Homo sapiens: one gene and its partners. The protein of the gene in region 4 purifies or fractionates together with the protein of the main gene of each other region. This does not show direct contact. Each region holds a gene or a part of one and is shown on either strand. Other genes may lie near its edges. The genes, in order: PDE4DIP, FAM83H, CRYBG3 and MLF1.

Region 1 (8,241 bases), on a different chromosome or scaffold from region 4:
ATTACAGGCGTGAGCCACCGCGCCTGGCCTGGATACCCGCTTTAGAAATCTCTTTTGTAATCTGTTTAAAAAAAAACAATCTGGCAGTATTTACTAAATCTGAACATGCATTTCCTATTACGCAGAAATCATACTTCTACTTATTTACTCAACAGAAATGTGTACATATGTTCATCAAAAGACCTGTACAGAAATGTTCATAGCAACACTGTTTATAATAGCTCCAAACTGGAAATTGCCCAAGTGCCTATTAAGAATAGAATGGACAAATAAATTTGATATATTTATACACTATAGAAGCCTATTTAAAAGCAAGAATAAATGGACTACAGTACCATATAACAGTATAGAACTCCAAAAGCAAAAGATTGAGTGAAAGGAGCCACGTACGAAAGAGTACATGGTGTATAATTTCATTTACATAAAGTTCAAAACTAGGCAAAATTATTCTATGGTGTTAAAAATTAGGATAATGATTATCCTTGAAGTCATCAGGAGGGCTTCAGGGATGCTGGTAATGTTCCCTTTCTCTATCTGAATGCCCATCCCATGAGTATACTCAGTTTGTCAAATTAATTGGACTGTAAATATATAATTTGCGATTTTTCCAAATCATTTCTGAATTTGTCTGAAATTGTTACATGTAAATATAAAATTTTTAAAACTTAATAAATAATACTTTTTTCTTCAAGTGTGAAAAACACTGGCAGAGAGCAAAAGGCCCTGATACACTCACTCCCATCACCATCAAGTGGTCATCTAGCCTTTGCCTGAGTAACTCCAGGGTCAACAATCTCTTTACTGCCCATACTGCCCAGGCAGCTAACTTGTTAGAAAGCTTTTTTTTAATTTTTTTTTGAGACGGAGTCTCGCTCTGTCGCCCAGGCTGGAGTGCAGTGGCGCGATCTCGGCTCACTGCAAGCTCCGCTTCCCGGGTTCACGCCATTCTCCTACCTCAGCCTCCCAAGTAGCTGGTACTACAGGCGCCCGCCACCACGCCCGGCTAATTTTTTTTGTGTTTTTAGTAGAGACGGGGCTTCACTGTGTTAGCCAGGATGGTCTCAATCTCCTGACCTCGTAATCCGCCCCCCTCAGCCTCCCAAAGTACTGCAATTACAGGCGTGAGCCACCTCGCCTGGTCTTTTTTTTTTTTTTTTTTTTTTTTTTTTTTGAGGCGGAGTTTCGCTTTTGTTGCCCAGGCTGGAGTGCAATGGCTTGATCTCGGCTCACCACAAACTTCTCCTCCCGGGTTCAAGCGATTCTCCTGCCTCAGCCTCCGGAGTAGCTGGGATTACAGGCACGTGCGACCACGCCCGGCTAATTTTGTATTTTAGTAGAGATGGGGTTTCTCCATGTTGGTCAGGCTGGTCTCGAACTCCCGACCTCAGGTGATCCGCCTGCCTCAGCCTCCCAAAGTGCTGGGATTACAGGCATGAGCCACTGCACCTGGCCAGAAAGCTTTTTCTTTACACTGAGCCATAACTCGCCTCCCAACAACTCGCTTGCATCGGTTGTTCTGTCCTCCTAAGAGATTCTAATGTGATTCAATCCCTCTACCACCAATAGCTCTTCGGAAATTTGAAGGAAGCTACCACATCCTCCCCACTCCCAGTCGTCATTTCTCCGGACTCAGGAGTCCCAGGTCCTTCCTTTGGCCATCCCTCAAGGCATGGCTTTGAGTTCCCTCCTGTCTCTTGATTGTACTTATTTTATCTAATGATGCCCAGAACTAAGCACAGCCCTCTCGGAGAGGCCCAAGAGGAGCAGAAAGGAGCCAAAAGTAAAATCATCACTTTTGATCTAGACAGAATCTAGACAGCCTACTTCTTCTGTCAACAAACCCTAAGCTTCAATTTGCTCCTTCTTTAATATTCACATTATACCATTCACTCCTGTTGAGCTTAGCAATCAACTAAAAGCACCCAAGTCTTTTGCATAAGCCCCAAATTTACCTTCTGTGTTTGTACCGTCTTCACTCTCTCAGGAGTCAGAGCGCTCATTTGGCCCCACCCCAATTCTCCAAAGCTAAATCCCACAGATGGAAGCGTATCTGTTATAGAGACACCGCTGGAATAGTCTCCCTACCCTCCCACCCACTAAAAAACAGAAACGAAGTCTTTGTCTCAATACATGGTCTCTTATCCTTACCCTTTCCTTGAATGGGGCTTCATTTTAAAGTGTGTCTGGGGGAAGGACTGGAAGAAAACGCAGTTTCACAGGCCATCTCCAAAATCTGACCTAAAAGCCAACTGTTGCCTGGCCTCAATAAAGCCTGAGCAGTGTGGTGCCCTGATCTCTTTCCTTCTCCATTCCTCCCCCAAGTGGGCTCCAACTGGAGGTTGTGGAGATGAGTGCTGCTGGGCTCTGCTCACTCAGTCCCTTTGCCTTTGTGTGAGTAGTGACAGATGAGGCTGAGAAGGAAAACGTGGCAGGGTGAGAATAAACCTGATATTGTTCAAAGCATCTGACATCAAACATATCTCTCAAGAAGACCTACTGGAATCCCTCTAGCCACACGAACAAGGAAACGACAGAGAACCATTTCTACAGAAAGTTCCAGGCGGCCTCCCTGGGTATTTTTAACATCAGGACTCGGTGGAGGGGAGAGTCATTAAGCAAGGGAAACCCCGTAAAACAGAACATGTGAAAATGACCAAGAGAGGTGGGCTGGGAACCAGGCAGGGCGAGGCTACAGAAAAGGGAAGCTGTCACGGGACCCTGGTGGTGAGGGGCGACCTCTCTCTCCCTAAGGGCGCTGGGGGAGGGGAGGGAGGAGGACCACCAAGTCTGGAGCGCGGCGAGAAGGAAACAGCCCACCTACCTCGTCCAGGTCTGCTCCATTTTCCAGGCTCTTTCCTTAGTCTCAGGACGCTCCTCACCCGGGAGGGGAAGCAGCCTGGGAAAATGAGAAGCCTTGCCCACGAATCTCCAGCGCAAAAGGCAGCAGCTTTTTCCTCCCCAGCTCCTTTCTGCGTCGGCGGCGAAGAGAGAGCTCTGCTCCCTGCTTTTTTAGAAAATGGATTTGACGTGGCCGAACCTGCGGCTAGCCGTGCGACCCGCACAAGGGAGGGACTGTTCTCAGTAGGAGGCTGGACTCAGAGCGGCGCGGCGCCCGGGGCTGTTTCGTGAGCTGGAGCCAGCGGCTGCCCGGGCCGCGGTGCGCGCACTCTCCAGGCTGAGACACGACTGGCTGGCACGAGTTGCTCGGCACCAGCTGAGCTGTCAACCGCGAGCGGAGGCGGGGCTCCCGACAACCAGTGTGCTGGGGCAGAATCGGCCCAGGTTACACGCCCCCTGAACCACCCTCGCGTCTCCCCGACCCCTCTCTCGCTGGCTCAGATGAATGATGACGGCAGAGGGCAGAGAGCTTAGAGGACGCGGTACCAAGCCCCGTCCCTCGCCCATCCCAACGAAGGTCTTAGAATACAATCAACCAACTACAGGAAGAATTTGTAGAGGAGGTTTTCTTGTGTGTCTGCATCGCCCCACCCACAGGTAACCCCAGAGCCAGAGATGGAGTCTAGGAAGGTTTAGGAGCAATCCCGGCTGAATGCAGATGTATACCCTACGTGGTCATGGAACACGATGTTGTCTTCCTAGAGATGTGACATGCCAGTTTCACCATTAATCCAGGGACAGGACCCTTCATCAGGAAGGGAAGCATCCCAACAAAACCTTACAGCCCTATTAGCTGCCTGTATCCCAGACATCTCCTGTTTTAGGGTATTCTACCTCCTCGTTTTTCAGTTTCGCCAGCAACTGGGCTCTACCAATAGCTTCAAGGAGGGAGAAGCTTCCTGACTCCCAGAACACTAGAAAAGCCTCAAGACAGTAGCCATCAGGACCTCGACACTCCCTTGTGACTGTTTTAAGATCATGGAAAAGGCCTCTTTGGAGATGGCATTGCCTCAGGCCCTGTACCATGTACTTATGTATCAAGATTTAAACAAGGCAGACATACTATAATTAGAGTGCTTGCCACCCTGAAGCTCCTTTTTAGCTTTCAAATAAGACCGTTTTATTAAATGACATAATCACTGTTATTATTAGCACTATCACTGACCTTTTTTTTTATCTGAAAAAGGCTTTATAGTGCCCACATGTGGCAATGTTAATTTCGTTGTACTTGTTTCAGAGATGATAAATTTGAGACCCCAAAAGGCCCAAAGTCTCTGCTAAGGTTCTGATACAGGCTGTGTTCTCCATTGGGTGGCCCCAGAGATATGTTCCCTGAATTTCTAAAGCTACGACCCACAAGACTTCTCCAGGATGAATTTATTCTTTCAGGCCTCCTAGGCATTTAACTCAGGAAGAACCTGGCATGCCTGGGTATTGGTGAGACTGTGGGGAGTCTGTGTTCTTGGGGGAACCTGTCATCTGTCTGTTATCTCTTGGATTGGTTCCCCTACATACTAGTACAAAGTAGGGGTGGGGAGGGGAGGATAACAAAACATTTGAAGGTTTAGCAGAACTGTCTAAAAAGCCCCTAGTCTAGACTCCTCCAACACTTGATTTATTGGTAGGACCACACTGCTCCAGAGCTCAAAATGTTACCAGGAAAAATTTCAAGGTCCAGTTTGATCTTAGACAAGGCTCACAGGCCACCTGTCTTGAAAAGAATATCCTGTTGCCTCTGATGGGGGGGAAGAAAAGGCAGGGAGAGTCAGATTCCCATCCTTCATACCAAAGTTGGGGCTATATTTAGCTTTGTCTCAAATCAAATTATGGGCTACCGAGTTGTGGAGAGGAACTCTGTCTACAGGCAGCTCACTGGATTCAAGAAATGATAGCACTAACTAGGTGAGCTGTGGGGTCTCAGAAGTGACGCTAGAAAATACGTTCATGTATTTTTAAAATAACTTTTTTCAAAAGTTTATAGCACATTCATTGTAAAAACATTTGAAAAATACAGAAAGTTATATAGATTACTCAGAATACCCAGGGATCTTCAATATTAAAAATGTGTTGCATTTTTTTCCCACTCTTTAAAAAATGCATCTTTTAATCCAAACACCAACTCTTTCTTACACACATGGGTATATTCTTGAGAAGAGAAATTTCCTTGTTGTTTTAAAAATTATACTTATTGTCAAAAGAACAATTTTTTTGCGTTAGATTTCAGAAGAAAAATATTCACCCATATAACCACTGCTACAGCACAAATGTTTAAATTTCTCCAAATTCCCTTTAGTCATTATCTATATATATTAAATATCTATTTACATAATTACGATTACAGCTTAGGTATATGTTTATATTCTCCTTCTTTCACTTAGTAAATATTTGTCCATGTTTTTAGGGAAAGTTCATAGTTATTATTCTAATGAGTGTACAATATTTTATAATATTAGTAGGACCATAGATTACTTAAAATATTCTACTATTGCATAGTTATGCTGTTTCTGATATTAGACTGTTATAAATAATGCCTTAATGAAGAGCTTTCTGCCTTTATCATTCTCCTTTTTTGAATTATGCTATGGTTGAATGTATGTATGCCTTCAAAATTCATACATTGGTACTTAACACCGAGTGTTATAGTACTACAGGGTGGGGCCTTTTAGGAATATGTCTTAGGAAGTGATAAGGCATGAACACTCCACTCTCATGAATGGGATTAGTGCTCTTAAAAAAGAGGTTGAAAGGATTGCTCTGGTCCCTTTTGTCCTCTGTCCCTCCAGCCATGTGAGGACACAGCATCTGTGGCAACAAGGAGCCATCTTGGGAGCAGAGAGCAAGCTCTTCCAGACACTGAATCTGCCAGCACCTTGATCTTGGTCCAGCCTTCAGAACTGTGAGAAATAAATTTCTATTATTTACAAATTACCCAGTCTAAGCTATTTTGCTATAGCAGCAGGAATGGACTAAAGGCGATTTTCCTGGGATAAAAGGACTTTCTAATTTTATTATCTTAGCCTCAAAAGCACTAGAAATTCTCCTTTTATTTTTTTTCTTATTTAATTTGTAAATAATTGGATAGTTATATTTTAGTTCTATATCTAGCTAGTATACTAATAATGTAACACCATCTCATTTTGCTTTACGTTTCTTAGAATACTAGCTAGTAAGGTCTTATTTCATATCCTTTCTTGGAAACCATATGTGTAGTAGCCAGTCTCATGAAATCCTTGTGTTGAGTCACTGTATTAGTCATCTTTTTGCTGAAACAATGCTGCTCAACAAAGAACTCCCCAATCTCAGTATTATACAACACACATCCATTTCTCCCTCAAGGATCTATAGTTTAGGTATGGATTGGTTTAAGTCTGTCATTTTCATGGCAGAGTGCAGGAGTGCAAGAGAGTTGGCAGAGACTCATGATGACTGGTCTCTGCTCAGAACTGGCACAGTCTCGCTTCTGCCATTTTCCGTTCACCAAAGTAAGTAACATGGCCAAGTCCAAAGTCATTGGTGCAGAAAAGTACAGTCTGCCCACAGAGTGCAGGAGGGGAGAGTAATATTTGTGGAACAATAATGCAATCCACCAGTCACTGTATGTGCTGCTTTCTTGCTTTTTGTTAAGCTTTTCTCCTTGTAGATACATGGTAACTTTATTCTTCCTCATCCCATTTTAACTTAGCTATGACTTTTGAACAGTGAAATGTAACTTGTTTCGTTGGCTGAAACGTGAGAGGAAGTCTCATGTGGTCACTTCTGGGAAGAACGCAGACATTTTTAAGAGCTAGTACATAATTGGCCCTTTTCAGTTTCCGCTGTTTTATTGATCCTTGAAGATCAATAAGATGAAGCTTTCATCAACCTAAGTCCCTGAGTTACTGTGATGGTCAGAGCCTTCCTGCTAACCCTAATTGAACATGTAGAATGAGCAAGAAATTCATTTTTGTTGTATTAAGTTACTGAGATTTGGAGATTATTTATTACTGGAGCATAATCTAGCCTATCCTAACACATTGCTTTTTATTTCCATTTTGCAACCAAGTATCGTTATGTGTGTGTCTGCTCTCAGTTTTCTGGCTTAGAACTCAAATAACCGGCCGGGCGCGGTGGCTCACGCCTGTAATCCCAGCACTTTGGGAGGCCGAGGCGGGCGGATCACGAGGTCAGCAGATCGAGACCATCCTGGCTAACACGGTGAAACCCCGTCTCTACTAAAAATACAAAAAATTAGCCGGGCGAGGTGGCGGGCGCCTATAGTCCCAACTACACGGGAGGTTGAGGCAGGAGAATGGCGTGAACCTGGGAGGCGGAGCCTGCAGCGAGCCGAGATCGCGCCACTGCACTCCAACCTGGGCGACAGCGAGATTCCGTCTCAAAAAAAAAAATAAATAAAAAGAACTCAAATAACCTGGGTAAATGATGTTGATAAATTAAACTATTCATTTTATTCTTTCCTGAGGGCACTGCTCTTAGTTTGGTCAACTGATTGTGCTTCAGGGAATACCTGAATTGATGATAAGGGACAAAAAATCGGAAGGTGTCACAGTCTTTACAGTCAGCTCCAAATATTCCAATGATACTTTTACCTTTCATTCAGTTTTTAAAATTCATTTTCCTTTTCTTCTCTCCAACTTGTTTCTGGGTAAAAAGGATTATTGATGTTGATATAGTTTACTGCATAATCTATACATCAATAATAAAAATAGCTATGTCTAATATATTTTTGCCAGATCCTCCTCTAACAATTGTGTGTATACTAACTCTTTTCATCCTCGCAGCAGTCTTTTGAGGTAGGCTCTAGTTAATGCCCACTTTACAAATGACTAATGTGGAGCACAGGGAGGTAAATTATACTGCCCACATTCACAAAGCTGATTGATGGCAAAGCTGAGATTTGAAACCAATCAGTTTTGTTTCAGAATGGCCTGCCTAACCATTTTGCGTACTGCTTCCCTAATTTTGACACGTAACATTGGCTGGGACTTAGATAGGAGGACAATATGTCTGCAACATCTGTCACTTCAGTGATCCCTGTGATCACCTGGTTAGTCAGAACATGATGTCTTCTTGATCCATCACAGCTCCATGTCTGTCTCTCTAACCTTGGGCTTAAAAAACAAATGCCCTTTCCAGACAAAGAGGCATCATTCTGAGATCAAGGATACAGTGTCTGTAGTAGATTAAAGATGACCACAAATTACTTGCTACTTCTCCCATTGAGAGGTGGAATCTAATTCTCCTCCCTTTAATATGGGCTACCCTTAGAGACTTACTTGACTAATAGAATACAGCAGAAGAGATGTCTGACTGGCCAGGCTAGGTAAGTAAGAAGCCTTGTAGCTT
Region 2 (7,287 bases), on a different chromosome or scaffold from region 4:
GAGAGCAGCGTGAAGTTGGGGAGGCCAAGGTGGGCCTTGGAAGTGGAGCTGGGGGGTCTTTAGTGCCCCCCACAGGGGTGGGTGGTGGGTCCACAGGGGAAATCTGGGAGGCCACGTGGTTAAAGGCTGCAGGATGTAACTGGGCGATTATACACACTGGGGAACATGCTAGAATACTTTGTGTGTTGTGTTTTATTAACACCAAAATGTGCCACATCATGGTTTAGAAGAGGTGGAGGGTGCAGGCAGGAGGCTCCGAAGGCCCAGGCAGGGCCGCCAGCCTCTGGCCTCTCCATGGACTCCAGCTGGAGAGCCTGTCCGCTCAGCAACACCCCAGGCAGCACCAAGAATAACATGCCCACAAGAACATCATGGCCAAGAGACGCACAGGCGCATCCCGCTTCCAGGCACCTTTCCCACCTGGCCAGAAGTCCCTGCTGTCATCCCGACTTGCACGGTGGTTTTGGTAACCAGTGGGCTGTGCAGGAGTGAAAGTGGGGTCACTTTCCTTCCTTTCCCAGCTGCTGGAGTCGGAACTGCTGCCTTTGTTTGGCGGCCTTGTTTCTTAAATCAGTTCCCTCTTAGGATTTATTACACTAAAAAAAAAATTAGTTTTTGAAAAGAAATAGGAGAATACAGAAACATGAATTTCACGAGGCTATCATCTAACAGTGGGGGCTTTCTACACACGTGGTGCCAAAATGTGTCATTCTGAGTCAATTGCAATTCCTCTCTAGGAGTGAAAAGAGATAAAAGATAAGCCAAGAACCCTGGACAGATTCTTGGTGTTGGTGACAAAGAGGAAAGGACCTGAGAATGGGGCTGGTGGGGAGAGGGGGGTGTCTGCTGGATACCAGGAGGACAAGGACCACTCCCACCTGCAGGGGTGCCCAGGACCTAGTTGGGCTCGGCCTCAGCTGCACCTTGTCCCCTGCCCTCACCTGGCCCCATACCTGTCAAGGATAAGCACTCCACAACCAGCCCTTCTAGCGCCTGGCTTGGGCCGGGCCTGTGCAGGGGGTGCTCATGAGGCCGGGGCCACAGGTTGTCTGGACCATGTTTTACTGTGCTGCAAAGGCCAATGCCCCCTCCCCACTCTCACCCAGTGCTGGCCAGAGCCTCGCTGGAGGAGATGGCAGACCTGGCCAAGGCGCCCCTTCGGGCTTCCCTGTGTCCCGTCCCCAGAGGCCTGCCCTGTCCAGCTTCCTTGCCACTCCAAGGGGCATCTTCTGGTCCAGCTCCCCCCCCCCTGCCCCACCCACCCCTTGCAAACTGCCCGCAGCCAGCCCAGTCTTCCCCACAGCAAGAGACGGGCCTCCAAAAAAGATGCTGGGAGGCAGCGAGCAGGAGAATCCAAGTAGGAAAGGAAGTGAAGCCCAGGCGGGGGAGGGGGGAGACGGGGGGGGGGGGGGGGGAGGGAAGGAGGAGACCTTGAGAGAGGGAGGGAGCGGGGAGGGGGGAGGCCCTGAGAACAGGAGGCCCTGAGGAGGAGAAGGGCCCAGAGAATGAGGAATTGAGGCACAGAGGCGAGACCCTTGCAAGAGGATAGGGGACTTAGCGGGGTGCAAGGCTCACGCCTGTAATCCCCCCACTTTGGGAGGCTGAAGCGGGCTGATCATTTGAGGCCAGGAGTTGGAGACCAGCCTGGCCAACATAGTGAAACCCTGTCTCTACTAAAAATACAAAAACTACCTGGGCGTGGTAGCATACATCTGTAATCCCAGCTACTCAGGAGGCTGAGGCAGGAGAATCGCTGGAACCCGGGAGGCAGAGGTTGCAGTGAGCCCAGACCGCTCAACTGCACTCCAGCCCTAGGTCTCAAAAAAATAAAGGGGGCGGGGGGGACTGAGGCACAAAGAGATGGCGGAGCCAGACGCTGCGCCACGCAAGGCTGACGGTGCAGAGATGAAGGTGCTGAGGGGAGAAAGGCACTGGTGGCGAGGGGTGCAGCCCCAGCGTTGGGGAGGCCAGGGGGCAGAGACGGCAGCTGCCAGGTGAGCCTCCAGTGGAGCCGAGGTCTGGCGCACTCAGCCAAGCCCCAAGCGGCCGTGGCCTGACAGCCGCTGCTCAAGCAGATGAGCAGGGCTCTCTGTTCCGCGGGGCTTCTGGATGACCGGGGCAGCGATGCGGGCACCCTGGCCTGGGTTGCCAGGCCAGAAGACTCACTTCTTGCTTTTGAACGTGCCCAGGATCTTGGGCACGAACTTGCCCACCTTGCTGTCCCTGGTGCCCTCCTCCGCGGGGCCTTCCCCTGCCCCAGGGCTGCTGGCCTCCTCTTTCTTGCAGAAGACCTCGAAGCGGCTGTACACGCGCTTCTCCTTGCGCATGCTCTCCATGCGGCGCAGCAGCCGATCGCGCTCCTCCGCGCTGGCTGGCAGCGTGCGGCTCAGCCGGCCCTGGGTCCCCAAGCTGTCCGAGCGGAAGATGGCTGAACACTTGTCCTTGTCGGACATATCTGGGGCCAGGACGCCAGCAGCCGGTGGACGGCCTAGCTCGGGGCTGTTGTGGGTCGGGCCGGGGCTCGGGGCAGGGACCGCACGGTGCTTCTGGCCGTGGGCACTGATCTGCTCCAGAATGGCCTTCGTGTCATCCCGAAGGTTGCTGCTGTACAAGGCGTTGGCCGTGGCTGAGGACAGGCGCGCCCGCGGACCCCGCTCTTCTGTGGCAGCCTCCGTGCTGTCACCCTGGCCCAGTGACAGACGCCGCGGGCTCTCGGGTTGGCCGTTCTCCTGCGGCACTGGGAAGCCACCCTCATCCTCCATGCGCCGCTCGCCCTTGGGGCTCAGCAGCTGCCTAAGACGCAAGGAGCCTTTGCGCAGGACTTCCATGGGGCCGCTCGGCCCCTCCTCCGCGGGCCCGGCCTTCGGGGACTCCCCGGAGATGGTAAGGGTGAGGCTGCCCCTGCGCTCCGGCACGGGGGGCACCGGACTGCTCCTGCGCTCCGGCACGGGGGGCACCGGACTACCCCTGCGCTCGGGGTAGGCTGAGGTGGGGCTCCCCTTCTGCTCGATAAATCCTGTAGTTGGACTTCCTCTTCGAGTGGAAAACCCAGGCGTGGGGCTCCCCTTCCGCTCAGGGTAAGCCGAGGTGGGGCTCCCTTTTGACTCATTATGGAGCACCTGGTGCGCTCCGGACCCTTCCAGCGGCAGAGGGCTGTCCAGCCCTTGCGGGGACGTTGAGTGGCTCTGGGCAGAGAGGAAGCGGGAAGGCAGGCGGTCGGAGCCGCTCCGGCCCAGTGTGTCGAGCAGCTGCGCCGCGGTGAGCGACGCGGCTCCCGGCTGCCGCTCCGCCTCCTGGTGCAGCTGCTGTGCAAAGGAGTCGCGCAGGTCCAGCAGGCAGCTCTCGAGGCTGCGGCGCTCGCCCCCCACGGCACCTGGGGCCGCCACCTCTTCCCGCCACGCCTGGGACACGACGGCCTTGCTGTGGCTGGCAACGGTGATGGCGCCCGCGCCGCCGCCGGGATCACGGGCTGGGCCCTTGTACTTCTCCAGCAGCTCCGCCACCTTGGTGGAAGCCGCGGAGCGCACGGCCTCTCCGCCGGGCCCCAGCGTCTCGCTGACCGTCTGCTCCTTGTGCAGCAGCTGCACCTTCTCAGTGGCCGCCGCAGCCCCGGCCGCGCCCTCGGCCTGTGACGTGCTGAAGATGAGCGAGGAGCGCAGCCTGGAGCTGCGCTGGACCAGGGGGTTCAGGCGCGAGCGGAATGAGTCCTGCTTGGCCAGGCCAGGCTCCTCCGGGCCCTCGCGCTCTGGGCCGTTGCCGCCGCTGCCCGGGCCTGGCACCGGGACCTTGGTGGGGAAGGCTGCTGGGACGCGGAAGGCCGAGGGGAGCAGGTCGCCGGCAGGTGCCCGGCCCCCGGGAGCCAGCACGTCGTCTTCGTAAGCCTCCGCTTCCATGGGCGCCGGTAGGCCGTCGTCGCCCCCATCCTCGCCGTGGCAGCCGCTCAAGTAGGAGGCCAAACGCCAGCGCCGCAGCCCTGCCCGCCCCTCGGGCCCGCCCCTGCGCTCCGGCTCCGCCTCGGGAGCGGGGTCTGGGCCCGGCCTCGCCGCGGCCTGGCATGGGAAGCGCTGGGTCAGGTTGGGGCGCGGGGCTCCGCTGGGCTCCAGGCCGCGGGGTCCGGGCGCGAAGGCGGGGTCCGAGCCGTGGCGCACCTCGCGGGACGCGCTGGACGGCACGTAGTCCAGCCGCTGGTGCCCGTCGGGTCCGAGCTCCGGGAAGCGGGGCCCGGCGCCCAGGGTGAAGTCATCCGGGTCCGCGAAACCCGCGCGGCCCCCGCGAAGCTTCTCGAACAGGCCTTGCGGGCGCGCCGGCGTGAGCTGCGGGTCCCACTGGTACTGCTGCTGGTAGAGCTGGTCACGGTGGAAGTGGCTGGTCTGGAAGCGGAAGTCGTCGCCGTGGCTGAGGAACGTCTGCCGCGACACCTGCCGCGCGGCCGCGAAGTTCTCCACGGCGCCCGCGCCCTCGGTCGCGAAGCTGTGCCGCTTGAAGGCGTCCATCTCCAGGTGCCGCGCCTGGAAGAAGCCCCGCGCGCCCGCGAGCTCCCCAGCCGGCCCGGCCTCGGCCTCCAGGCGCCGCGAGAGCGGCCGCAGCCCCGCGTGCGGTTCCAGCGCGCCCCCCGGCATCCGCGGCGGCTCCTCCCGGCGGAAGGCCGACAGGAAGTGGCGGTCCGGGTCGAGGAAGGAGGGGAAGCCCAGGCCCTCTTCCCGGGGTGGCGGGAACAGGAGGTGCGCTCGTTTAGGGAAGGAGAAGGGGGTTGGCGCCCCGACCCCAGGGACGCCCACGAGAGGCCCGGCCCCGGCATACGGAGCCAGGGCATAGGCGTCCATGCGGGCCAGGGCCGCGGCCGAGGGCACAAGCGGCTCGGACTGCGCGAAGAGGATGCGGAACTCCTCGTCGAAGCTGGAGACCAGCTCTCCTTGGAACACGTGCGCCAGGCTGCGGTGGATCTTCTCAAAGGACCACATGAAGCTGTGGGGGGGTCAGGGCCAGAGTCAAACCGAGCTGGAGCGAGGGCACTGCAGCCCCGTGGGCAGCGGGTGGGGCGCGGAGGACGCAGGGATGTGAGGTCTGCAAGGACCTGGGCCCGGCTAGGCTGTGCAGGGGTCTACAGGACAAGGGCTCCTGGCGAGGAGGGCCCTGGTGTGGAAAGGGGGTGCTGGGGTTACAGGAGGAGGCCCCAGAGAAGGGGGTGAGGGAGCCCCGCGGGCGCACCTGTAGCTCCCACTCATCACCACGGCACAGTCCACCAGCAGGAACTTCTCCTTGACGTGGCCCTTGAAGGACTTCCCAGTGCGGCAGTAGTAGGTGGGGCCCGCCACAGTCCGTACGCGCAGGAACTGGGGAGGGAGGGGAGTCAGATCTCTCCCACGGGTCCTCCCCAATCTCCCACTCCCGGGAACTCACATCCACGTGCTGCAGGTTGACACGGCACTTGTCGGCCATGTCCAGGAAGTGCTGCGCGTTCATCTCATCCAGCAGGATGTAGACTGGGACCCGACGGGCCGCGGCCTCCAGCACTTCGCTGAGCAGGTCCACATCAGTGAACATGTCCATCACCACGGCCACCACCTGCAGGGGCGGGTCAGGACGGAGAGGAGAGGCCCCTGCTGTCCCCACACCATTGTCCAGCCTCCCCTCCACACCCGGGAGGTGTCTGGATCACCCACGACCACTGTGAAACAAGCTAGTCCATCCTAGGGAGTTGGCGCCACATCTGGGAAGATGGGCAGGAAGAAGGGACCAAACAGAAGAGGTGTGGAACGGCTGGCCATAAGGGGGAAACCGAGGCAGGTGCAGGGCAGAGAACCCTGGATGAGGGTGGGCCAGGTTGGGGCACGGCAAGGGCCCCTCAATCCCCTCCACCCTACAGACGGCTGAGCTGCCCCCATTCCAGGGCAGCTGTCAGGGCCAAGTGCCAGGCTCCAGTTCTGCCCTGGGACGGGGTTGTTGCCCTGGGCAGGGGAGAAAGTCACAAGCCTTTAGCGTCTGGACCTCATGCCTCAGTCGCTATGGTTTAACAGCACCTTCCGCCGTCTGCTAGCTGTTTGGTGATGGTTAGAAGCCCTCAGCTGGCCAAGGGCCACCGGGCAGGATGAGAGGTAATTATCTGAACAATGAACCCAGGCTGGTGGGGTGCCCACCCATCCCCAGAGCCCCCGAGTTTCTGGGCACTGGCCATGACCACAGGCAAGCAGACCTGTGCAGAGCCTGCAGCCCCTGATGACCGAGACCTGGCAGCCCTGAAGATCTTTGCCAGGGACCCCCACTCCAGCTGGAGCTCAGGCTCACCCCTCAAGCTGATCATGCTCATGCATCTCCTCCACCCCCGTGCCTCTAGCCCAGGCCCCTCCCCCACTACCCTCAAGCCCAAGATGGCGCACCTGCTGGGCGGAACGGATCATCCTGCGGGCCTCATCCTTGATACTGGGGCTGTCGGGGGGCGGTGGCTGCACCAAGGTGGTCACCTCGGTGCCCTGGAAGCCGAAGGTCAGAGGCCAGCCCAAATCAAGCTCAGGCACGGCCTGGTCTGAGTTCACTGGCCAGTATGTACCCGAGGAGCCATCCATGTCCACGTCGAGAAGGCTGCCTTCAGGTGGCTCTCGGGTAACATACTGCGGAGGCCGAAGGTGTCGGCTCACATGTTCCAGCTCTTCAGGGCACAGGAAGTCTGGTGCCCCCTCGGTAGCGAGGAAGCGGCTGTAGGCCTCCGAGCCACCCTCGGCCAGTGCATCCACCGCCAGGCGGTAGTACTCTTTGTAGTGAGGCGGCAGGTACCCGGGTGCCAGTGGGTTGTCCCCCTGCGAGGAGCTCTGAGAGCGACGGGCCATGTTGGGGCCAGGGGCCTGGAGGGGCAGGGAGACACATGACTAGGGGTGGGGGCACTGGGACCACTCCTACCCTCGAGCATGGACACACTGTGGAAAGGGCCGTCAGTGACTTGGGTAGGCTGGAGTTTAGCCCATGCCCAGGAGGCCTTCCAGGGCACCAGCCGAACCAGGCTCACAGAGAGCAACCCAGACCCTAGGATGCCCCTAGCTGAGGGGACACTGGCAGAGGGCTGGGGCACAGGTATCCCAGCCCTGTCTCTCCTTTCTCTGGGAGGCTGAGGCAGGAGGACTGCTTGAAGCCAGGAGTTTGAAACCAGCCTGGGCAACACAGCAAGACCCCATCTCTACAAAAAATTTTAAACATTAGGCAGGCATGGTGGCGTGCACACATAGTCCCAGGCACTTGGGAAGCTGAGACAGAAGGATTGTTTGAGCCCAGGAGTTGGAGGCTGCTGTGAATTAT
Region 3 (7,724 bases), about 61 Mb from region 4:
GTTCCCTATTCTCTCTCTTCCTAAGTTCTCTTTGTATAGAAACATCACCAATTCCTTGAAGACCCAGTTAAAATCATCCCTACCAGGAAGCACTTCCTGGTCTCCCCTATCACTTCTAATGAGTCCATTCCTTGTATGCTTATAAACTGGGCTTAACACTGCACCAGTGATTCTCAAACTGGGATCCACAGAACTCTGGGAGTTTTTGAGTTTCCTATGAAAACTTCAATTGCAGTTTTCCTTTTTATCATCTAAAATAAATTAATATAAGCATTTCCTGGAAATGGTCAACCACCTAATATGAGTACAATCAAGCAATTTGAGTGCCTACGCCTAAGTTGGGATATACAATAGTGTTGATGCTAATAGGCCTTCTTTAATTGTGACAAAGAAAGAATACATAATGAAGTGTTGTCACCAACTGAAGCCCATATAAATCACAGCACACCATAAAAACAAAGATTTTCCTATGGTTCAAAACAGTAAAATATTGGAAGACCTGTATCAAGGCATGGCAGCTCCCCAAAGACCTGGTGTTTGTCCCAGTACGCATTTTGTGAGCAGGCAAAAAAACAGTTTCAGGATGTTGTAAATTCGACTTTTACGGGTCTCATAATTATGTTTTAGTTTATTTTTTAATTTTGTACTCCTCTTCATCTAAAATCATCACTACAGAAGGTATACCCAGCTCTCATAATGATAAAAGTTTTTATGCCCACAAAGAGAAATAGCCAAAATACTCTTTCATTTTGAAATAAGATCACAGTGACAAATTGCAATTCTGTTTCCAATCTTGTTAACATCAGGGTGTTGTGTTACTGGGACATTCAGTACTATAAAGCGGTTCCATTTGTTTTATTAAACTTTCAATAAAGGCTTTGTGTTTGTTTATGCCCTTGAAATGAAAGATTTAAGCTCATTTAAAACAGTAAAACACCCACATAAAGGGTCATCTGCTATCCCCCTAACATCTGGCAAGTTCCAAAAAAGATGAGAACAAAATTAGCGTTGATATAAGCACAATTAAAATCTTCATCGTTGAAAAGCCATAATTTGTGCCAATCTGGAGATGATGAGAATAGAGAAGTGGTAGGTGAACAAGGAACTAGTTGCTGGAGGGGTCAGCTCCAGTCAGTAAAGAAATTAGAATTGAGAAGTGCCTTAAAAAGCCAAAATAGGGCAGAGAGGCAAGCAGGATTTCAGGCCATTACTGACATGAGCCTGAATTTGACCTGCTTACTCCTTTCTAACACTGACTCTCAAGTTCCCAACTTTTGCTGCGCCTACTTGGGATTTCCTTGCAGACTGCGTTCATATTATCCAAGACTGTTAGTGCTGTTACGGCGGTGGCAGGCACCACAGGCTGTCTGCCCACACCAACAGAACTAGCTGACACCCTGGATGAGATCTGTCAGACTTAAAAACTATTTTTAACTTCTGTGTAACTTTGAATTTTAAACTCTCAACAGTCAGAGCAATAATAGCTGAAACGTCCCAGGAGAATAACCACTCAATTATCGTAGGAGCTTTCTTGGAAACATGTGGCATGTTATTAACAGACGGTCATAATGAAAATGTTTCACAAGCGGGGAAACCGAGGAACACACAAACGACTAAAATCACATCACAAAATCTGAATACTAATGGAATTGGCTCACTCTCAGTTCTGTTTCCTATCCATTTTTTTTAAGCCCACCAGGAAATCTTGAGTCCGAAGTAAACACGGTTTTCTGGAGTGTGTCCTTCCAATGACAATGGTCATTCTAGTGCAATCTCGGGAGAAGACAGTGTAAGCCTCTCATAAGTTTAAGAAAGCGAGCTGCGTTTTACTTAACCCCTCTTTCTTCGGGGGGATGAAAAGACTCAGAAACAGGCATTTAAATGAGGCATGTCTAAAATTTTTTGATTTTTGAACATGGGAAAGTGAAGGAAAGATAAAAATATTACAGAGAAAGGGTACATTTTGATTACTGAAACCAAGACAGCTGGAAACCTGATTTCCAGAATCTGTTTGGGAACTTGAGGCAGATGTTTCTAGGAGAGATGAGAAATAAAGAAGGGTGGCGTCATTTACATGTCCAGTCCATTTTGGTGAAAGTCTTGGGAACGCATTATCACAATTCCTTTTAAAAATCATTTTGAGAAAATTTAAATAAGATGGCAAAAATACCAGCTGAGGGGGTGACGCCCCAAAGCTTTACCTTTTCCACTTTTGCCCCGATCTCCTCCCACACAAGTGGTGCTGGGATCGCGCCCCCAATTCCCCTGGCCGACGGCTCCGCTCGGCTCACAAGTGTTTCCCATTACTGCAGGCGGGACGCCGGGGAAATCGCTTTTGCCACAGAACTTGGAGAGTAGAGCGTGTGTGGAACGGGAACCCAATCACGTCCGGGCAGGGGAAAGTGGGAAAGGAAGAGCGCGGAGCCAGGCGGGGATCGGGGGATATGCGTCCGGCTGCCGGGCAAGAACTTCACCCCGATTTAACCTGCAGAGGAGAGGCGAGTAGTGCGGCACGGGAACGGGGCAAGGAGGAGGAAACTTTAGCAATGGAGGAAGGAGAACAGAAAGTGGCGAGCGAACTGCAGCCTGGCCCAAGAGCGGCCCGCTGCCGGCGGTCAGGCCGGGAGCCTTCATCCCGCGAATATGTGCAGGGCCCCCCCGCGACCCCCTCCTCGACTCCCACCTGGCAGCGGACCGGCCTGGAGCTGGAGGCGGGCTCGTCCCCGGCCTCTCCTCCTCTTCCTCTTCCTTGTCCCGGGAAGGACTTCGGGGAGCGAAGAACCGGGAGAAGCTGTGCCAGGGGGCGCTGCCCCTTCTGCGGCCGCTGGACATTTCCCGAGGGGGCCGCTGGCCCGGGGCTGTCTGAAGGGAACGGCCTAGGTGTTGCCTGGTGCCCGGAGCCCGACCGGGCGCCGCGGGATGCGGCTAGGGCAGACCGACTCGACGCGAGCTGCCAGCGCGGCTCAGTCTCTCTCGGGCAGGAGAAGTGCGGACGCGACGCGCTCCTCGCGCGGCAGCTCCTCACGCCGCTGCGGCTGCTCCTCCTCCCGCCCTCGCCCGGCGCGGCCCGCCCCACCCCGAGGAGGAGCCAGTGGCCGCGGCACCGCCCTGAGCCGGGCGCAGCCGCCACCGCTGGGGCGCTACGTGGTCCCCCGAAGGCGCCGGCCTGAGAGCCTGAGGGGAGTCGCCCAGCGTGCGACGCTAGGCTCGGGCTTACGGCTCAAACAAGTTCAGGCTGCAGCCTGTTGGGCTTTGCCTTCAATTACTTTCTGTGACCGTTGTGTTTTCTATTCTACAGTCAGAGCACAGAAACGGTTTTCTTCGGGCTTTTGAAAGAGGTTTATGAACTAAGGTTTGTGAAAACACTTGGCAAACTGCAGTACCGGGGCGCCCCGGACTTGCTGGGAGCTAAGAAACAGCTACCGCAAATACAGCTCCAACCCTGAGGGCGAAAGTCGCGTTAGCACAGAACCGGGCGGCGGGAGGGAGAAGGGGGTACCTGTCAGGCGGTCACCACCTCCCGGCGCGTTCTGCTGGCTTTCTGTGGTGTGACTTTTCCTAACCGCGCTGTGCTTCAGACTTTTCACACGCCATACTTCCCTGCGAACTCTTTCAAAAACGGCACTGATCAAAAAGTATGATTTCAAGCTTGTCAATGCTGCAACATATTTTGCAGTCGTTACACAGATGCCACTGAAATCTGGGAACCAAAGGGTGCTTAAGACTTGTTTTAAGTCTAAGTACAGTGGTATGGATTTTTCTTGGTTTTTCATACCCTATAGCAGCTAGTACAGGAGATACTGAGAGGCCCATTCACCCCAAGTGTTTTGTTTTTGTTTGAAGGCAAGCTGCCCCTGGAGTAGACGTCAAGGAAGTGATATGGCTTTTGTTCATTAAAAAATGTATACAAGTAAATGAGATAAAAATGAAATGTCCACAGCAGAGGGGAGCCTTGGAGTAATCTCCCCTCTGGCTTTCGGGTGCTGGAGGAGAAGGTTGCTCATAAGTAGATTGCATACCTATAAGCCCCAAGTCCTTTCAGCACCTGCTGGAGGCTATTGAGCCTCCCTGCCTCCCCACGCTGCCTCCCAGAAGCCCTCCAGCTCCTACTAACTGCAATAGAGCCAAGACACTCATTCTCATTTGTTCTGGCAGGATTTAACCCATTAAAGTTCAGTCAGCCCGATTTCCATCAATCGGGTTCATCTCAGTCTATCCCTCAAGATTAATCCTTTTTTACTCTTTGGTAAATTTTTCCTATTTCTCTGTGAGCCTAGTCTGAGAAAATAGAAAAAGACTAAGATAATAGACTAGAATAAGACAAGTTCCCAATTCTAGCTTTATTATTTTATAAGAGAATCTCCACTGAAGACCCACTTACCAAAAAGCCCAAAGAGAGTAATAAAGCAAACTGTTTCTTCCAGCTAAAAGGCCCAAATGATAATTTGTCTTCCCAACGTATTATTGAATGACTATCACATTTGTCCCTGACTTGTTCTGTGATCAAACCAGGCCCCAGTGCCTACCCAGAGGGTACTTCGTTCAGGAAGTTTTTCTTGGAATAAAAATGGGGGGGAGTCAATAGGATTTAATTAATGAATTATGGTTTTAACTAATAATATATCTAACAATACTCTGATCTCCACTCGGTAGCACAGCAAAGCACTTAAGTGAATGGTAAATACAAATAATGCCATGTTTACACTAAGACAAATTGCGTCTATGACAAAATAGCTTAAAGTCATAAAACAATGACCATTGAATTTTCCTTCATTTGCTTTCTGAGCACTTATTAGTTTTCTATATGTCCTACATTGTTATAACCTGAACTCATATGAACAAATTTCTAAATACTAAATTCTAAGATTGCATTAGGAAGCCTGTAAAAATGTCAAATTTTAGAGCTGTAAGGATCTTAGAGATACTAATTTAGCACAGTGTCATTAATTCACTGATCCAGTTATTCCCCGACGTTTAGTGAGTGCCTGCAGTAGAAGCACATCTACAGTGAAGCCGATGAGGCTCAAGTTTCTTGGCTCCCTGCTGGCACAGTCTCTTCCAGTGTGAACTCAGCAATGGGATCCATGGCCAGTTTTATCAAATTTACAAAAGTAAATGTTTTAATGTGATTAAGACCACAATCTCTTTTTTTTTCCACTTAGATGTCCACTTAGATTTTCTTTTCCACTTAGAGTTATCAAGAGCATTTGGGAATCTGCTAGGGAATTTCAGTTGGGAATATATTTAGTTTGGACTTAGTGGAATATATTTATGTGGTTTCCAGCCTCTCCAAAGTATAGTTATTTCTTAAATTCCAATTTGTTTGTAGCGCAGCTCACCAAGTATTACACCCAAGATGCAGAGCCAGAGGAGATATATTCTGTGGTCTCTGACACTGAAAATATGTGGGTAATAGAGGTGAGACAAGATTTGAAAGGTAAAGCAGCATCAGGTGTCATGTGGAAAATTATTCCAGGCATCAGAAGACAAAGTTTCAACAGGAAGGATTGCCTCCGATTGATGTAATTTCTCTCATAGCAATAATATATTCAATAATGCAGTATATTTAATTTTTTTTTTGAGACAGAGTCTGGCGCTGTCACCTTGGCTGGGGTGCAGTGGTGCAATTTCAACTCACTGAAACCTCCGCCTCCTGGGTTCAAGCAATTCTCCTGTCTCAGCCTCCAGAGTGGCTGGGACTACAGGCGCCCACCACCATGCCCAGCTAATTTTTGTATTTTCAGTAGAGACGGGGTTTGACCATATTGGTCAGGCTGGTCTCGAACTCCTGACCTCAGGTAATCCACCCGTCTCAGCCACCCAAAATAATTTTTATAACTGTAAACACAAAACATTTTTTCTTGTTGATGTAAACCATGTAAAATAGAATTTATCAGAATTCTTGTTTGTAGGGTACAAACCTGTAGCAGTACCACAAGCTTTGTGTGTGTGTGTGTAGTACTGCATGTTTACACAGCCTTTCTATCAATAAGAAAAACAGAACTAGAGGAAAGATTGCATTATCTTTTCATTATTATGGAAAATAATATTACTAAATTATTGTCATATGAAAGGCTATTGAAGAGTACACTGCCAAAAATATAGGAAAAAAAGTGATTGTGCAAGGCATTTAGTAAGAAAACAAATTGTTTTTCTAGTCAACCTTTTAAAATTAGTAATTTGCATGGTTTATGTTTTCATTCAATATATTCATTTTTATATCTAATTTTCTTTTAAATCCTTTTTCTTTAAAGAGGACCCTCCAAATTGTAAAAACTTCAGATCCCACAAAACCTGGATATGTCCTCTAGTGCATACTATGTGTCAGATACATGCTCATTCTTAGACATAGAGATACGGTGATAGATAAGACCAAATGCTTAACATCAAGGAGCAAGTTTAATTGGGCAAGATGAGCAAATGGGGTAAGATGGGAAACATAGGACGGATCCCCAACTTAATCTGAAGGGTTCCTGGAAGGCTCACTAGAGGAGATAACTGTTAATATGCTCTCTTCTTCTCTGCCTCCTTTTAGCACCTGATTTCCACCTATAATACTGTAATTCAATAACTTGTGTGATATATGAGAAATCCTGAAGTTCATCACACTGTAACTGAATTGCCATTCCCACAACGTAAGTACCATTCTCAAAGGTATGAGAATAGAATGAAAGTGTTGATCCTTGAAGCATTTAAACTGCAAGAGTAGTTTAGTAATGCTAAGCGTTTTTGTTCTGAAAAGTCCACCAGGGAATAAGCTTCTGTATATATCTTAGAGCACAGTATTTACTGTGTGGCAGGTGGCCCAGGAATATTAAGACAGCTGTCAACATCAAGGAAAGCACCAGCCCATGAAAAAGCAAGCAGATGGATTGGGGCACTTCACTAGCTGCCTCCTAGAATAATAGCTGTGCGTGGCCAAATGAGGCAGTGTCATGCGGCCCAGGGCAGCAAAAAGCTATTACTGAATATAAGCACTCAATTAGGAGGTGGGGTGGGGGGAATATCTTCTCTTTTCCTTTGTTTATATGCTCAAATTTTCATTAAGAACTCCCACAGCAAATAAAAAAGGGGAAAAATGATGTTAGCATTTCTCATTGTTACTTTCTAATTATCATGGTTTGTAACATGGGGAAATGCCTGTCTTGCTGCTTCAATGAGAACAGATGGTAAAATTTTTAAGTAATTGGTTATTCCAACTTCTATGAGATGCATGATGTTTTATTGTATTGTTTGTCTGGTTTTTGTTTGCGGAACATGTGGAGATTGAGATCTTTCGAACACACATCTTTTAATGCTTAAATTAAGTAAAATGTGTTAGTCTGACCTAAACTACATTTACACTTTTCTCCCTTTGATATGATGATACTTCAAAGAGAAATTAGTCCTTTACAAAAATATAACATTAACATTAAAAATTAAATATATAGCTTTCAAACAGCACAAAATTTGCTAATATTGAAACGTACTTTTAAAAATGTATAAATAGGGGTAGCATGTCTTTGACAAACACTGATTATAACATGTGTTCCAAAATAGTTGTTCACACCAATTCAGTGTGATGTGTCTTTTATCTAAGTCAAATGCTATCTAAAATATAAGGTCATATGTAAGATATTAAGTTTTATTAATGGAGCTTCATAAGCATGACGTAGATAATGGCTCAGAATAATAATTTACTATTAGATGAGAAATTCATCCTCTATATTGTTTTCCCAAAATAT
Region 4 (7,287 bases):
TAACTTGACCTCACAAGTTTCTGTTGTCAATTTCCTAAGACAGGTTACTCAGCTAGAATGTCAATTCATGTTGTTATGAAGTAATCTAACTTCCATAATAGCAACAATAGAGACATGATAGTACTTCTTAAGACTGCTTTAAAATATTATGTTCCTTCACTCAATTTTTCATCAAAATGTTGATTATTGTGAAATACTCAGTATATATATAAATGTGATAAAATTACAGAGGTTACAAATAAACACAGGTCACAATATCATGGCTTCTATCTTACTGCATAAGAATAATTTTATCAAACCCCAGCCAGGTGTGGTGGCTCACGCCTGTAATCCCGGCACTTTGGGAGGCTGAGGTGGGCGGATCACAAGGTCAGGAGATCAAGACCATCCTGGCTAACATGGTGAAACCACGTCTCTACTAAAAATAGAAAAAATTAGCCAGGCATGGTGGCGGGCACCTGTAGTCCCAGCTACTCAGGAGGCTGTGGCAGGAGAATGGCGTGAACCTGGGAGGCGGAGCTTGCAGTGAGCCGAGATCACACCACTGCACCACTGCACTCCAGCCTGGACAACAGAGCGAGACTCCGTCTCAAAAAAAAAAAAAAAAAAAAGAATAATTTTATCAAACCCCAATGTTAATAGAATTTCTTCCTCCCCTCCACCCAACACAGTCTTGCTCTTTTGCCCAGGCTGGAGTGCAATGCGTGATCTTGGCTCACTGCAACCTCTGCCTTCCGGGTTCAAGAGATTCTCCTGTCTCAGCCTCCCAAGTAGCTGGGATTACAGGCGCGGGCCACCATGCCCAGCTGATTTTTGTATTTTTATTTATTTTATTTATTTATTTTTTTGAGACAGAGTCTCGCTCTGTCGCCCAGGCTGGAGTGCAAGGGCTCGATCTTGGCTCACTGCAACCTCCGCCTCCTGGGTTCAAGCGATTCTCCTGCTTCAGCCCCACGAGTAGCTGGGATTACAGGCACGTGCACCACCATGCCCGGCTAATTTTTGTATTTTTAGTAGAGACGGGGTTTCACCATGTTGGTCAGGCTGGTCTTGAACTCCTGACCTCGTGATCTGCCCGCCTTGGCCTCCCAAAGTGCCAGGATTACAGGCGTGAGTCACTGTGCCGGGCCCTGATTTTTGTATTTTTAGTAGAGATGGGGTTTCACCATGTTGGCCAGGCTGGTCTCGAACTTATGACCCCATGATCTACCTGCCTCGGCCTCTCAAAGTGCTGGGATTACAGGCATGAGCCACCGTGCCCGGCCAGAATTTCTTTTTTAATACAACAATTTAAAATTTAAACACTCTATTATGGAAAAACATTATTCAAAATACTTTCTGAAACTAGGAGATGAATCCAACTAAATTTTAATATAATTTCATTATTGAATTAATACAATTAAATATAAAAGCTTAATATTGATTTAAAAATTAATAAAAATAATTTAAATTTAATGATTAAATTTGTTAATAAATTGTAATATAATTAAAAACTACAGGGAGAAGAGTTAGGACACTAGAAGGATGTAAATGCATTGAAGAATAAATACAAAATCCAGAAAAAGAAAAGATTTACTTGAGAGAGAGAGACATACATGTAATCTAACATATAACAGAAATTAAAATCTTGTCTATACAAAAGCCTAAGTACTACTGAACAGTACAGAATGATTTAAGTAAAAATTATGGCTTATTTACAATAAAACTTTAAGGTAACCACTTAAAATGCTTTTGAAAAATAGCATCATAAGTAACTTTACAATTATAATGGTAAATTAAAATAAGCACAATATAAACTATATAAAAGTAGAATAATAATTTGAGAAAAAAGTGTTTATATATATAAAATGATTAGGAAGAAATACATTAAAATATTACTAGTATTTTGAGTTTGGATTATGGATTATTTTTGTCTTTATACTTTTCAAATGTACTTTCTTGATAATCAGAAAAAATATTTAAAGACACATTTTGCCTAATGATATTACTAAATAACAATTCAAAAGATTCCACTTTCCAAGGATAAAATAAAAATAAGTAATATCCCATATTGCCAAAAATCACTATAAAAAAGAGCTCTCCTATGAAAGGATGAAAACACAATCCTATTACTTTCACAAGGTATTCTCTACATGCATTATTCAAAAACTACATCTTATGACATGTTTCTAAAAAAAAATTCATCAAGTACGGCTGTTATTTTAAATTTATAAGAAAGAATATTATTTTTTTGTGATAACTTACTTTCATTCATATTGATGAACTCCTGGTTGACCTCTTCATCTCCAGTCTTCTTGTTCTTTGACTTTTTAATGACATGAGCTCGGTCATGGATATGATGACCAATAGCCATTTTTTCTAGTCCACTGTCAGAATCTCTCATTGCTTTCCTGGTTTCCTTTATCTGTAAAAATAAAGAAATTTTATTATTATTTAAATATATATAGAATGTATATCTCAGGGCCAGCTTACCTACAGAGATATGGCCATAGATCTATTGCTCTAAAAATAATGTGTGCTCAGTTCCACTATTAACTTGTGGTAAAACTGTGGTAATAAGTCTCTGATATTTCCTGAACTCCTTAAAATGAAAATGTCTACAACAAACAGAACCCATACAATTTAACCTTTTTCCAAATTGTAATCAAATATTAAAACAAAAGTAGCAATTATAGTTTAATGCCTTCAAGACTGTCTTAGATAATGTAATAGAAGGAAGTTTATGGTGGGATTCCTACAAATAAGGGCAACTAATTATTCATCAGTCATATTGATTGGCTTGAATCTCATGATTCCCGACTATCAACTCTATGGAAGTATTATAAGAATATTTCTGATAGCAACTAACATGATTTACTGTGGGACATCTACAATTATATTCTGTTTACATTTAAGTTTGTCACTTTTAGAAAGTTAAAATTAAAATGTCTGAGATTAATTAGCAGAACTATGGCAAAAGCATCATTAAAAGGTTCATCTTTATATGTAAGAACTAAAAAATGTACTACTTCACATTCATTAGATTGGTAAACCTAAATTTTTACTATAAGTACTAACAAGGAAGTAGAGAAATGGAAACTCACAAGCCACAGTTTTGGAAGCCAACAATTTCAATCACTGGGATAGTAGCTTGGAAACGCTAGGTAAAGAGGAAAGTACACATACCCTACAACTCAGCAATACCACTCCTAGACTCTGTATAAGGAGCCATGTATAAAGATGAATTAGTGAAAGATTAGACTCACCTACATATCTATTGACAGAAAATGATTTAAAAATCATGGTACATTCATATTTTGGATATTACATAGAAGTTAAAGAAACCAGGGCCACATGTATCAACTTGAATAAATCTCAGAAGCGTATTAATCATAATATATTCATATTTTGGATACTACATAGAAGTTAAAGAAACCAGGGCCACATGTATCAAGCTGAATAAATCTCAGAAGCATATTACTCAGCAAAGACAAGTTGCAGAGGACATATGCAATATGATACCCTTTATGTAATGTTGGGAAATCTGGAAAATAATCCATTTTTTTAATGACAGAAACGTGAAGTAATAAAATTGTAAAAACATGCGTGAAAATGATAAACTCCAGATACAGGAAAATGGTAATCTCTGAGAAGGGGAGAAAGGGAAAATAGACCTCAGAGGAATGTATTAGAAGGTTTAACTGCCTCTGTACATTTTCGCTTAAAAAGAAAACAAAGCAAGAGACAACTTGAAGCAAATAGAGAAAAATGTTATGATATGACTAAACTGGGTGGCAGGAATATGGGCACTTATTATGTTATTCTCTATATCCTTTCTGTACACTTGAAATATTTCATGAGTTAAAAAATTAATTCACTTCAAATGTAAACTTAAAAATAGACATTAATTTCATGAAACAAAGGCTTCTTTTCGTGTTTTGTTTACCTTGTCAACATGTAAAGGTAATAAACATCCATAGATATTTACATGAAAAAAGGCACCCTCACGGGGGGGTGGGGGGGCTACAAAAAAAATGCCACAAACTAAGTAAATACAGTTGAGCTTTAATGGTTTCCACAGTGAGGACTACCTTACCCCCAACCCCCACACCTCCCTCCTGTCCCCCCACCATCTTGTACCAGATTAAATTTTAATAGTTAAAATTTGATCTAGACAGTCTATCATCCCCTAACTTTATAAAACTTTAGGAATGCTTATAGAAAACTTACTCCTCCTGGAGCTCGACGAGTTTGAGTTGAGGCCTGAAAAACCTTTGGCGGTTCATCTCCTATTTTGGAATAAGTCATAACTGAGGAAGAACAAAATGAATGTCCATTTGGATCCACTGAAAGTTGACCCTACAGGTAAACAAATTGTAAATTCAGTCGAGTCAAATATAAATAATTATTGCCAGAGAGTTCAAATAAGTAACAACACTAGCTGTAAGTTCTACTAAGGATACTAAACTACCAATATGGTGTAGTCAAAGGCACACCCAGGTTCTCAAGTGAGAAGTGACTTGAAAAATTACCTCCGCCCAAAAAAAGTCACCCCTAGAGGGTCCTAACGGTCGTCCATTTTAGGTACAATTATCCCACTCTCGTTACAAAGACTAATAAGTGACTCACTCAGAGATCCTTAAGTCTTTGGGTGCTCGTGGCTTAGATTTCAATAAAGATGCTATGCCCCCAAACCTGTGATACTTCTATAGTCAGTGGTTGACCCTTGTGTGTAATCTTGCCAACATTAAGCCAATCAATTAGTTATACATCAAGTTTCGTACCTCCTCCTGTAGGTACCAGATTGCTACATTACTAAAACCAATAATGCCCTAGATTATTTGGGCATTCTGAAATGATCCATAGAATTCAAACTGGATGACTAGAATGTTATGGGTCTTCTTCAGATCAAATCAAGTGACTGGTTTTGATGTTAATATAGAGAGTATTATTATAGTACTAGTTTATTTGGACTATTAGGGAACTATACCTAAACATTATTCCTAAAATTTCTGTTTTCAGAGTCGTTTATAAAACCCTGAAACTCTTCAGATGCTACAAATCCTTTTAAGTAGACAGGTTATTAATAATAAAATTATGCAAATTCATATAAAATGTTCATTTACAATAGTGACTTTCAATAGAATCAATGTTTTTGAGGTTATTTTTTTTCCAATTTTTAAAAAATTTTCAAAGTTAACATTATTTTTCAAACTTGGAGGTTATGAACTCAATTTAGTGGGTTGTAACCAGGATTTTTAATACATGAAATAGACTAGAAAATAACTGTATATACTGTAAATAGTATAGTCATTTTTTCATGAAACTTTTGCTTCAAATATATTTATAAAGTATACAAATATTGCTTATTGGGTTAATCATGTAAGGTATCTTTTTTAACCACTATGGTTAAAAAAGTGTTTGAAAGCCACTATGAAATAGAATATATCAAAGTATACACAATGTTCTCAATGCTTTGTTTTTAGTACTTACGAAGTTTCTTTCTAATTTCTGCATATAGTTTCTCATATTTGACACCATTTGGTCCATTGTCTGGAAAGAGCTGACATCTGTATGCTACAGAATATCAGGAAGTATGTTATTAACTGTAGGTAACAACACAAAAGATGCAAATACATCTTCCAAAACAGCTAAAACATTTTTTTCCAATTCATTTAGTGAAATCTCATGCAGTAATCAACCAGACAAAGATAACTTAGAGGATATAATGACAGTGATTAGTTAAGGAGAAAATTGAAGCATACACAAAATCCCAAAGAGCCAACATACAAATAATTAGGGAACTGTAACATTATAAATACATATATGTGCATGTATATATAAAAACACATACACACCTAATCACTCATTACTCACTTTTTCAAAACATAATTTGGTGTATGTTAAATACTAAGTGATACATTCTCTAGCATACGATAGTTTTCATAATTTTCCTTATCTCTCAATACTCCACCATGCAAATAACTAAATTTGCGTATAAGATGCCAGTGTCACCTCCAGCAGTACCACATGGCTGACAGAAGTTGTCCCTCGAGTAAGTAGCCAGCCTTCCTCTCATCATAGTAGGATCTGGGTGACAGAAATCAATTCACTTTACTAATAGGCCTTCAATTTGCTGCCTACTGAAGGGTCAGTAGGCTATACCCTTGAAGCATGAGGTATGTGTCTTCAGAAAAACAGTTAAGAATTCCTCTAAACAGTAGTTTCTCAACCAAGATTGATTTTGACTCTCAGTGGACACTGGCAATAACTATACTCATTTTTGGCTGTCACAGATGAAGAGAGCATATAACTAGCATCTAGTGGGTGGAGGTCAGGGATGCAGCTTAACATCCTACAATGGATAGGACAGTCTCCCAGAACAAAAAGAATTACCCTGCCCAAAATGACAGTAGGGCTGAGGTTGAGAAACTTTGCTCTAGGAAAATCTACCACTGATTTTAGGTTTTAAAATCTACCACTGATTTTAGGTTTTATCACTGGAAGACTCACCAGAAAATAAAAGTCAGGCACACATTCCAATGTGTTAGCCAGTAAATCATCTGTTATAAAACAGAATGAGTTGCTTGGTTTAATGAACTTCTCTGTTCAACCAAGCGGAGCTCTGAATCCTCCTAAGTTCTATTTGTGTCTCTGTGTTCTATTGCTATTGGATTTTTACAGATATAATAATGTAAAATAGGTGGGAAAACCAAATTCCTCCTTAGAACCTGCACTTAATATTGTAGGGAACAACAAAGGCACATTTAGGAAATACTAATATATATTTGGGTAAAAAAGGACTGAAGTAGAATTAATTTTGCATTTCAGAGAGGCAAACACAATTCAGGGAATATTCTGAATATTTGCTTTAACACTAGATTGAGAATCCGTTCTTATTTCATGAGATATGGAAAGGTTAACCCAAAGAAGGATAAAAAGAGAGAGAGGAAAAGATTAGACATTTGGGTATTTCTGCCCTCTTCTCAATTCATGTTCAAATCAACCATCAAAAGATGTATCTGCACTTGCTCTGGGGTGACCCAACACACTGGAGTGACAAAAAGTTGGGGTACAAAATGTAGTTGAGACTTCAGTGGGCCCTTAAGGCCTTCAAAAATTTTGTACACATTCTCCTCTTTCTTCCTTAAATGTTTCCTCCTGACTTTAAACCTAGTTAGTTCCTTCTCATGATTCAAGTATCACCACCTGAGAAAGGCCACCGCTGGTCACCTGTCTAATCCCTCCTTCACTTCCCCCCATCTCTGTATCATTACCCTGTTTCATCTTCAGGGTACTGTGACTATC

Evidence for each region.
Region 1: the proteins of MLF1 (region 4) and PDE4DIP purify together in Homo sapiens (affinity purification with mass spectrometry; 3 studies listed by BioGRID and IntAct, with this or other methods). This does not show direct contact.
Region 2: the proteins of MLF1 (region 4) and FAM83H purify together in Homo sapiens (affinity purification with mass spectrometry; 4 studies listed by BioGRID and IntAct, with this or other methods). This does not show direct contact.
Region 3: the proteins of MLF1 (region 4) and CRYBG3 purify together in Homo sapiens (affinity purification with mass spectrometry; 3 studies listed by BioGRID and IntAct, with this or other methods). This does not show direct contact.

The regions. Positions count from the first base shown.
Region 1 is NC_000001.11:148,839,375-148,847,615, reverse strand, and holds the start of PDE4DIP (myomegalin), read right to left. Parts: upstream 3,189-8,241; 5' UTR 2,842-3,188; coding exon 2,822-2,841; intron 1-2,821. UniProt on the Homo sapiens protein: Functions as an anchor sequestering components of the cAMP-dependent pathway to Golgi and/or centrosomes.
Region 2 is NC_000008.11:143,723,759-143,731,045, forward strand, and holds the end of FAM83H (protein FAM83H), read right to left. Parts: intron 6,840-7,287; 5' UTR 6,825-6,839; coding exon 6,378-6,824; intron 5,566-6,377; coding exon 5,401-5,565; intron 5,334-5,400; coding exon 5,209-5,333; intron 4,966-5,208; coding exon 2,163-4,965; 3' UTR 175-2,162; downstream 1-174. UniProt on the Homo sapiens protein: May play a major role in the structural organization and calcification of developing enamel. May play a role in keratin cytoskeleton disassembly by recruiting CSNK1A1 to keratin filaments. Thereby, it may regulate epithelial cell migration.
Region 3 is NC_000003.12:97,817,315-97,825,038, reverse strand, and holds the start of CRYBG3 (very large A-kinase anchor protein), read right to left. Parts: upstream 3,029-7,724; 5' UTR 2,833-3,028; coding exon 2,684-2,832; intron 1-2,683.
Region 4 is NC_000003.12:158,595,131-158,602,417, reverse strand, and holds part of MLF1 (myeloid leukemia factor 1), read right to left. Parts: intron 5,557-7,287; coding exon 5,473-5,556; intron 4,339-5,472; coding exon 4,210-4,338; intron 2,405-4,209; coding exon 2,245-2,404; intron 1-2,244. UniProt on the Homo sapiens protein: Involved in lineage commitment of primary hemopoietic progenitors by restricting erythroid formation and enhancing myeloid formation.